Linked DNA regions of Homo sapiens: all the other regions are linked to region 2. Evidence: fine-mapped expression QTL. A gene starts in region 2. Each other region holds a variant in brackets. All regions are shown on one strand. Distances are from middle to middle.

Evidence for each region. PIP is the estimated chance that this variant, and not a neighbour inherited with it, causes the effect. A credible set is the group of variants that fine-mapping cannot tell apart.
Region 1: its variant is the best candidate, but not a certain one, in a credible set for the expression of LIMCH1 in monocytes (TOPMed, PIP 0.58).
Region 3: its variant is the best candidate, but not a certain one, in a credible set for the expression of LIMCH1 in unexposed skin (GTEx, PIP 0.55).

The regions. Positions count from the first base shown.
Region 1 is chr4:41,368,151-41,370,917 of GRCh38, forward strand. It overlaps a transcript of LIMCH1 not described here. Among named protein-coding and RNA genes, the nearest start is that of UCHL1, 110 kb to the left of the region's middle. The variant T/C (reference allele first, on the strand shown) is at 1,164.
Region 2 is chr4:41,536,779-41,539,545 of GRCh38, forward strand. LIMCH1 (LIM and calponin homology domains 1) reads left to right here and starts at 1,379. Exons shown (of 32, transcript NM_001330672.2): 1 at 1,379-1,572.
Region 3 is chr4:41,372,532-41,375,298 of GRCh38, forward strand. It overlaps a transcript of LIMCH1 not described here. Among named protein-coding and RNA genes, the nearest start is that of UCHL1, 120 kb to the left of the region's middle. The variant A/G (reference allele first, on the strand shown) is at 1,589.

The sequences.
Region 1 (2,767 bases), 170 kb before region 2:
AAGCTCAGTCAAATTGTTAAAATATGAAAATAATTATTTGGGAGACTTGGCTATCACTCATTTGTAAGTTTGCTTCAGTATAAACAGTGGCAAAAATAAGCATTAATATTTTAATGTGTGAAAGTGTGCTTTCAAAAATTATTTCCTGAAAAGTGTTTACTGAGCTCCAACAATGTGCAGCATAGTGTTAGGCATGGTGTTAGGTAATGAACAAAATAAACATACTTCCTGCCCTCATGAAATATACAATGTGGCAGGGGGACAGAGAGATTAAACAATACATATATAATTACGATTTGGAATACATACTATGAAGACAAAGAATGGGGCAGGGGGGATTAAGAGAAAAGCACTCTTTAAAAAGACAAGGATTCTTAGTGAAAATAAGATTTAAGCTAAGACCACGGAAGAATTCTAAGCAGGAGAATTTGATTGATGATGATTTATTGAGAAAAGGGCTTGCGTTGGATGCTACACATACTTTTATTATGATTGTGTTTTGAAACAAGGTAGGGTAGAAACACTCTTAAATTTCTCTAGGTCTATTGAAGGTAGATATGTGTTGGTGGTAGGGCAGGGGGTGAAGGTACCTGCCTCGGAAGTTCTTGAATATTCCTTGCAGGCCACTCAGAGTTTGCATGATGATCCACTGTCCATTTTACATCTGAGGCACAGATAAGAACTCTTCTAAGAAAAATGCGGAGAGGACTTTGGGATTTGTGTTTGAGCCTAGACTCTGGATTAAAATTCTTGGACAAAATAGAGGCTGTAGAGGCTGTACTCCACTCTTAGCAGGAAGGGGCTGCGGGAAACCTGCTTGCTTTTCAGTGAGGGAAGAGAGCCATTTTGTGTGAGACTTAGGGTGGTGACCCACAGATGTCTTCTCATTTGGGAACTTTTCCCAAATTCTTCCAAAAGAGGGGGCTTTATAAACTACTAAAGCCAGGTGCCCTTTGGGATCCTCATAAATTGTAAACCCTGGAGGTCCTTGACTGAGATTCCTTTCAACACTTGAACTACCATTCTTAGACCCCCTCCCCCATCTTCCCAGTCTAACATGGCTGCTGGAGAGTCGTGATCACATCACCTTTCCAGGAAGCTGGATGGAGGCAAGGAAAGTGAAGAGTGCATCCTTCCCATATAAGGTGGCTTCTGGGAAACCC[T/C]TTCTGACATACTGGCTACTATTTTATTGCCCAGAACTTCAGGAACATGGCCCTTTCTGTATATAGGAGAGACTCTGGAGAAGGATCTTTTACCCCAGGCAGGAGTAATGCTCAGATAATATTCTTGAGTTGTATTCCTCAGGAAAAAGGGGAGAATGGCTATTGGGGTAGCCACAACCTGGAATGCCCCTTCTCCACTTCTCCAGGGACAAATCCTTTCAAGATAGAGCTTAAACCCGACTGCCTCTGCAGCATGGTCCCTGATTCCTCTAAGCTCATTAATCCTTCCCTTCTTTGTACACACCTGAGCCTCAGTTTTTGCCTTTTTTTTAGAAAAGTTGCTGTATTTTACTATCACGAATTTTTTTTGTGTGTGTGTGTGGTGGGGGGATTTGCCTCCTTTGGTGAACCCCAGAGCCCTGTGGCCAAGGACTGCGTCTTAGTCATCACCCTGTTCCCTCCTTGTTTCAGCCAGGCTGTTCCTCACTAGGGCCTCACAGCCACATTTCCCCACTGCCTGAGCGCTTTCTCAGTGAGTCTGTGCCCAGCTACGGTTGCCTGATTGGCACTTGGACTTGGCTGTGGCAGAGAAAATAGACTCTGTTGCTGCCCTGACAGGAAGCAAAGTGTGTGTGTGTGTGTGTGTTTTGTAGTGATTAAAAAAAGCAGTTTACCCAATAGTTGCCTGGAGACAGTCAGTGATTGGACACTCGGAGGGTGATTTCTCTGTTGGCCCTTGGGTGAAGATATTCTTTAGGGTGCTAACCCTCCCCTCAAGTTAGACTGGGTCAGGGCTCGTTGGAGTTCCTGGCTGCAAGGCGGGAGAGCAGACATCTCTTTTCTTTAAATAAACATGCCCCCAGCATTCGGCCTTAGGGCTCTCACCTTCTCTTTCTTTCCCTAAGTCAAAGCAAACCTCTCTTTCACCTGTTATAGAAGTCTAGCTAATTCCCACTTCTTAGGATGAGGGAAAGATAGAGCACTTCCAATGATAGTGAATCTAAAAAGAAATGGAAGAATTTTTATTATAGTGGTCACCTGTATGAGTTCTTATTAGACAGGTATTTTTAAAGGAAAAAAACCCAAAATAACTGACTAGTAGCTGGTATCCATGGTATCAATAAATGGCCACGGCTGTGACTGTTAATTGTCATGACCCAATGGGAGCACTGAGAAATAGCATCCCCTCTTCTTTTCCTATGGAAAATTAAAAAAAAAGTTGCCTGTGGAGCTGAATGTTGTCATCAGCCAACAGATGAGGTTGCCACCTTTTTCCCTAAGGGACCATGCAAGATGTCATAAATAGGAGGGGCCAGTGACAAGTAGAAGCCTGATTCATTATGCTGTTAGAGTTGACAGAGTGTGATAATAGTGATAAAAATGGCTAGTTCAGTGCCAAATAAAAATAACAGCAAACACACTTCTGGAACACTTACCATGTACAAGCGGTAGTCTAGGAGCTTGCTTGAGTGGTAGTGTAGGTGCTTGCATGAGGTGGTATATTGTGTATAGAACAAACACCCAGCACAGTGCCTGATATATAAGATACTTCTCAAGCAAGCACTGTTTATGGCCGTTTTACAGATGGGAAAATGGAAGCACGG
Region 2 (2,767 bases):
AAGTTAAGGAGACATAATGATTAAATATTATATGGCATTATAGATGGGATCTTAAAACAGAAAGAGCATATTAGGGAAAAACTAATGAAATCCAAATAAAACATGGATTTAGTTAATAGTAGTGTACCAGTGTTTATTTCTTAACTGTGATAAATGTAGATGTACCATAGGAATGTAAGATGTAAGACATGAGTTATACTGAAACTCTGCATATTATCTTTGTAGCTTTCTATAAATCTAAAAACTATTCTAAAATAAAAAGTTCACTTAAAGTAGGATGAATGACAATAAAGATAAAAGAGCATAATGCAAGGAAACTATGAAATAGGTAAGGAAATACAGAAGTTATTAATAAATATTAAATGTCAGCCTACCACTTGATGTATTTGTGTCAATAAATGGCAGGATACCAGTGAGTCCATTGGCATATTAATCCAATAAACTTTTATAAATGATGAATTGGTTGTAAACATTGTGTTTTATAGCATTTGAAAATTCCAAATGGTAACTCCGCACACGATGCTTCTGCTCACATATTTCAGCATCCTGCTTTTAGAATCTGCAGAAAGAAATAGTTCATGTCCTTTAGGGAGGTTTAATAAAAAGCAACAGGTGGAAAATGGATTTTGCAGTAGCATGAACAGCCATAACCATAAATACTAGTACCTCAGAATTATACCAGCAGAGGACTGTAAACACATTAATCTCCCAGCAGTGCAGAAATTCCATTCTCAGATGTCATCTCAATTTCAGGCACAAAGATTGAATGCCTCCATTTAAATTCAAAACACTGAAGGAATATGATGATCCTTTTTTTTCATGGGGATTCATGGAGTGAGTTTGCCAGTTTCCTCATCTATAAGATGGGGTTGATAAATCCCATCTCAGCATTGTGGGATTAAATGAGATGATATACATAAAATACCTAATATGATGGATGGTACACAGGATGTTTTCAATAAATGGTAGTTTACTTTTTATTATGCTCATGAACATTAGGATGGTCTTAGAATCCCAGAACTAGAAGCCACTTAGAGATTTACTTTTTGAAACATTGTTATTTTACAAATAAGGAAACTGAGACCAGAAGGCAGTGACTTGCCTGGAGTCAGGCAGCAACTTTGTTCCAGAGTTGGGACTGGAGTGAGTCTTTGTTCCTCGGGTCCCACTTGGGTGCTTTTTCTAGATCCAGATTTCCTGACAGTACTGCAAACCTACTGTGTGCTAGTGGCTGACACAAAGCTCTCTGCACAATTCCAATCCTGGCATCTCTACTTCTGAAGATGCCATTCCTTTTCCTCAGAGGGAATGGGCTTCTCCGCCTCCCTCTCCAATAGGTGTGGCAATCAGCTGTCTTCCAGTTCCCTTTCACTGCATCAGCATTTCAGCCGCAGCAGCCTGCTTGTGGACAGAGCAGGGGTTGGCAGTGGTGACGACTGTTTTGGGAAAGGAAATGTAAGGGCATTTCGGCTGCTGTGCTGGGGCTGACGAGGAGCACACAGGAGAGATGCCCCTCCCATCTCCCAGAGTGGGTTGGCTGGAGTTCATTGCGGAGCATGAGGACGTGTGGGGGTAAGTAAAATTCATTATAAAAGAAATACATGCTTAGGGGTATCCATGATGGAAAGAAGGAAGCTATTTAGACTTTAATACTTGGTTTAAAAAAAAGTGACTTTTTATTCACTTATTAGTATGGCGAAAATAATATGAAAATTACTTTCCTGTGGATTCATCTTGTCCTTTGATAACTGTTAGCACCTGTTGCTTTTAATTAAGCTTTTTTTTTTTTTTAATTCCCTAAGGAAAGCATTGTTTTTTATTTTCCGGTATGTGGTACAAGACACATAACTCCATTAGTTTAGTCAAAATAAAAAGGATTTTTGAGAATTTTGAGAATGAGAAGCAACTTGGCTGCATTTTTAAGATGTGGTCCAGCAGCACATGGTGTTGTGGGGGAGATGTGGCTGCATTCATGGTGGGGCTGCTTCACCTGAGCCCCTGTCACATTCTGCTCCTGACTCCACAGCCCCCTTTGCTTTTTAAAAACTTCCATTTCTTAAAATGAGGAGGAAAAGAAGCAAGGAAGACATTGGGGAGGCAGGGAGGAGTCTGGAGGGAAGGGCTGCATCTCCAGCCTTGCCCACTTAGTCCTTGTCCTTCATAGTCACTATTTACTGCAGGCCGGGAAAGGAATGGGGGTTATTTCTGGACAATTGTCTCATAAAATCCCGTCAGACCCGTCTGAATGCTAAACGTTCCATGGCACTGGTTATCTAGGGGAAGAAAATTTTCCTTAGCCAAATTTATGAGGCTGGGTTGAAAATCAGGTTGAAACAGAGCCTGGCGAATCCCTATGGCAAAATGATTCATCTTTGTGGAGTCGGGAAATCTATTTTTATCACCTTTATTCAGCCAGCTCCTGATTGTGATTCTCTCACTGAGCTACAGCCGTTTTCTTCATGGTGCTGAATAGACCAAATGTCTCAGGAGTCTGAAACTTCTCTCCTGCCACTCCCAGAGTGGCTGATTCAGCAGTCCCGGGAGAAGGGGTTTGTCCTGTGCTGCGCGGGTGGGTTCCGCACAAGGTGAAGGTCAAATAAAACCGAGAGGCTGCAAGTGTCAGCAGCCAGCCTTTGACTCAGGAATCCTGCCTGAGGGTATGTGCCACTCTGCTCTCCTGCTCTCTCTGTAAGGTGACTAGAAGGTGACTGGGCAGCCATAACTCCTCCAATTTTGAAGACCTTCCCAAGGGAAGAAGGGGCAAGAA
Region 3 (2,767 bases), 160 kb before region 2:
GATGCATACATAAAACAATACCTTGAAGATTCCCAGTGCTGGAGCCTGGGATCTTGGGTCATATGGAAAATGTTTTCTTTAGGAATTTCACATTTCCTATCTGCTATCAGAAGACCTTGGACAACATTTCCAGGAGAAGCTTCTGTTGCCTTTGGAGGAGGTAGTTGAATATTGTCTGTGTGTGTGTTTTTCTGATCCATTTTTCTTTGAGATTTTGTGCCTGGGTACTACATAAAGCAGCACTGTTTTCATCCAGGAAACCTACAGGAGTTACTTATTGTGAGTGAGAAGCTTAAGTGAGTTGGAAATGAGGAAACTGAGACTTGAGGGTTGGCAATTTGTCTGAGGGTCAGTGACTTCTTGGCTGCGATTATTCCTGTTCTCTGGAGCCCTTTCTACACCAGTATATGAGTATTGGCAATTTGTCTCCGTTTGGGACATCATTCATTCATTCATCATATAGTTATTGAGCGTGTCCTAGGGACTCAGTAGTATGAGAGACAAATGTGAGATTTCCATTCCACCTGGAAGGATGGACGCTGAGCACAGAATCACGCGTGTGATGCATGCTTGGAAAGGGAAGAGCAAGTTGGTCTGGAACACAAAAAGGGCCGGGATCTCCTTTGGTCTAAGGGGCAATGGGACAGCCTCTCTGAGGAAGTGCTATGTAAGCTGAGACCCCAAGGATGAGCAGGGGTTGGCCATGCAAAAATGAGCAAGAAATCATGTTCTAGGCAAACACTTCAGGCTGTAGTGTTTGCCTTAATGGAAGAGCTGAAGAAGACCAGTAAGGCAGGAGCTTTGGGAGTAGGTATGAGGGAGGTGCAGGATGAAGCTAGAGTGGGCTGCAGGAAAGCTGCATGGTCCTGGCACCGAAGATAGGAATCCTCCGTGCTTCTTGGCCCGGCCTGGGCCATGGCTGGCCTTGTCTGGGAGGACAGCAGTTGGATTTTCTCCAAACTCTCTCAAATTACTATAGTTCCTGACAAAAGAATAGAAACATAGCTAACATTTATGAGAGCTTATGGCCTGGCAAATTCTGTCCTAAGCACCTGACTTTTCAACCATCCTATGAGCTAGCTACAAACTCTTATTACTCCCATTAAACCTAGAAATGAGTGAATGGCTAAGGGTTTTACGGTCATTAGGTGGTAGAGCTGATCTTCAAACTCATGCAGTCTGGCTGCTTTACCTGTGCTCCTAACCACCATGCTATGGGGTGTGATATGGTTTGGATTTATGTCCCTGCCCAAATCTCATGTTGAATTGTAATCCCCAATGTTGGAGGAGGGGCCTGGTGGGAGGTGACTGGATCATGGGGGCAAATTTCCCCCTTGCTGTTCTTGAGATAGTGAGGGAGCTCTCACGGGATCTGGTTGTTTAAAAGTGTGTAGTACCTCCCCCTGCTCTCTCTTCCTCCTGTTCCTACCATGCAGGACATGCCTACTTCCCCTTCTGCCATGATTGTAAGTTTCCTGAGTCTCCCCAGCCATGCTTCCTGTAGAGCCTGCAGGACTGTAAGCCAATTAAACCTTTTTTCTTTATAAATTACCCAGCCTCAGGTAGTTCTATATAGCAGTGTGAGAAC[A/G]GACTAATACAGGGTGCAAATGCAGGCTGTTGACCAAGGGTGTCTGTGAGGGATATTGATGAGGGGGAACAGCAGTAAAGAGCTGGGGGCAGGAGGGTAGAGGTAGGGGATGCCTAAGGATGCTGGAGGCCAGTGTTGGCTTTAGACATGTTTTCTGTATTTTAAAAGAAACTCCAAAAATAAGTCCTCTCACCTTGACAGTTTTGCCACCTGGGAAGGAGAGTGATTGTATAGAAAGAGTGCTCCAGGCATCTCCCAAACCCCACATTCTAATGCATGGGGACTCTGGTTCCCAAGCAGCCTGATGAACCCTGGTATTGCTCTGACATGATAGGCCACTCATTTTTAACTTCCATCAAGAGTTGTAAGTAGTATGATATATTTAAAAATGTATTTCTTATTTTATTTTAAACTCTGTGTGTGTGTTTAATAATTTTTTTCATTCAATTTTTTTTTTTGTTTTAGTTAGCATTCTTATGGTTGCAAGCAACAGAAATCCAACCAAAACTGGCTCTAAAAAATAGACAGTTGATTGCTCATTGACGTTCTGGAGGTAGATCCCTACTTCATACAAAGGCTGACTCAGCAGCTCAATGATATCAGTAAGGATCTGGATTCTCTCTCTCTTTCCACCGTGCTGTGCATTGTGTGGCTTTATGCTCTGGCTTTACATAGGGCCTCCACACCTGCCCTACCCCACTTCAGAAGGTCCAGGCTTTTCCACTAAAGGCTGGCTGGGAAAGAGCGACTCCAGTCCTCAAGTTCTCTTTACACCCTCTGGGCAGAGAAAGAGGACACATTCTCATTCATGATCACCAGGGAAATAGATGAGTTGATTAGCCTAAGCCAATCAGACTTCACCCTGGTCCGTCCCTATCAAAGATGCTGGCTGCTACCCAACAGAGAAGCAGTGAATTCCCTAGAGGAAAATCTGGGTACTTTTAGTAGAAGAATGGGTAAAGTGGATGCCAAAGAGGCTACCACCAATTGTTACTAACATTTTATTAAAAATGTGGTAATATACAAGAACACACAGATGATAAGGGAAGGAAGGAAATAATTAAAATGAACTATTCAGAACACTGACTACTTCTTGGAGGTGAGTATAAGATTATAAGCTGGGAGTGGTTAAAAAGAGGCATTAATAGATTGTTTTACTCCTATTTTTATAAGACTAGA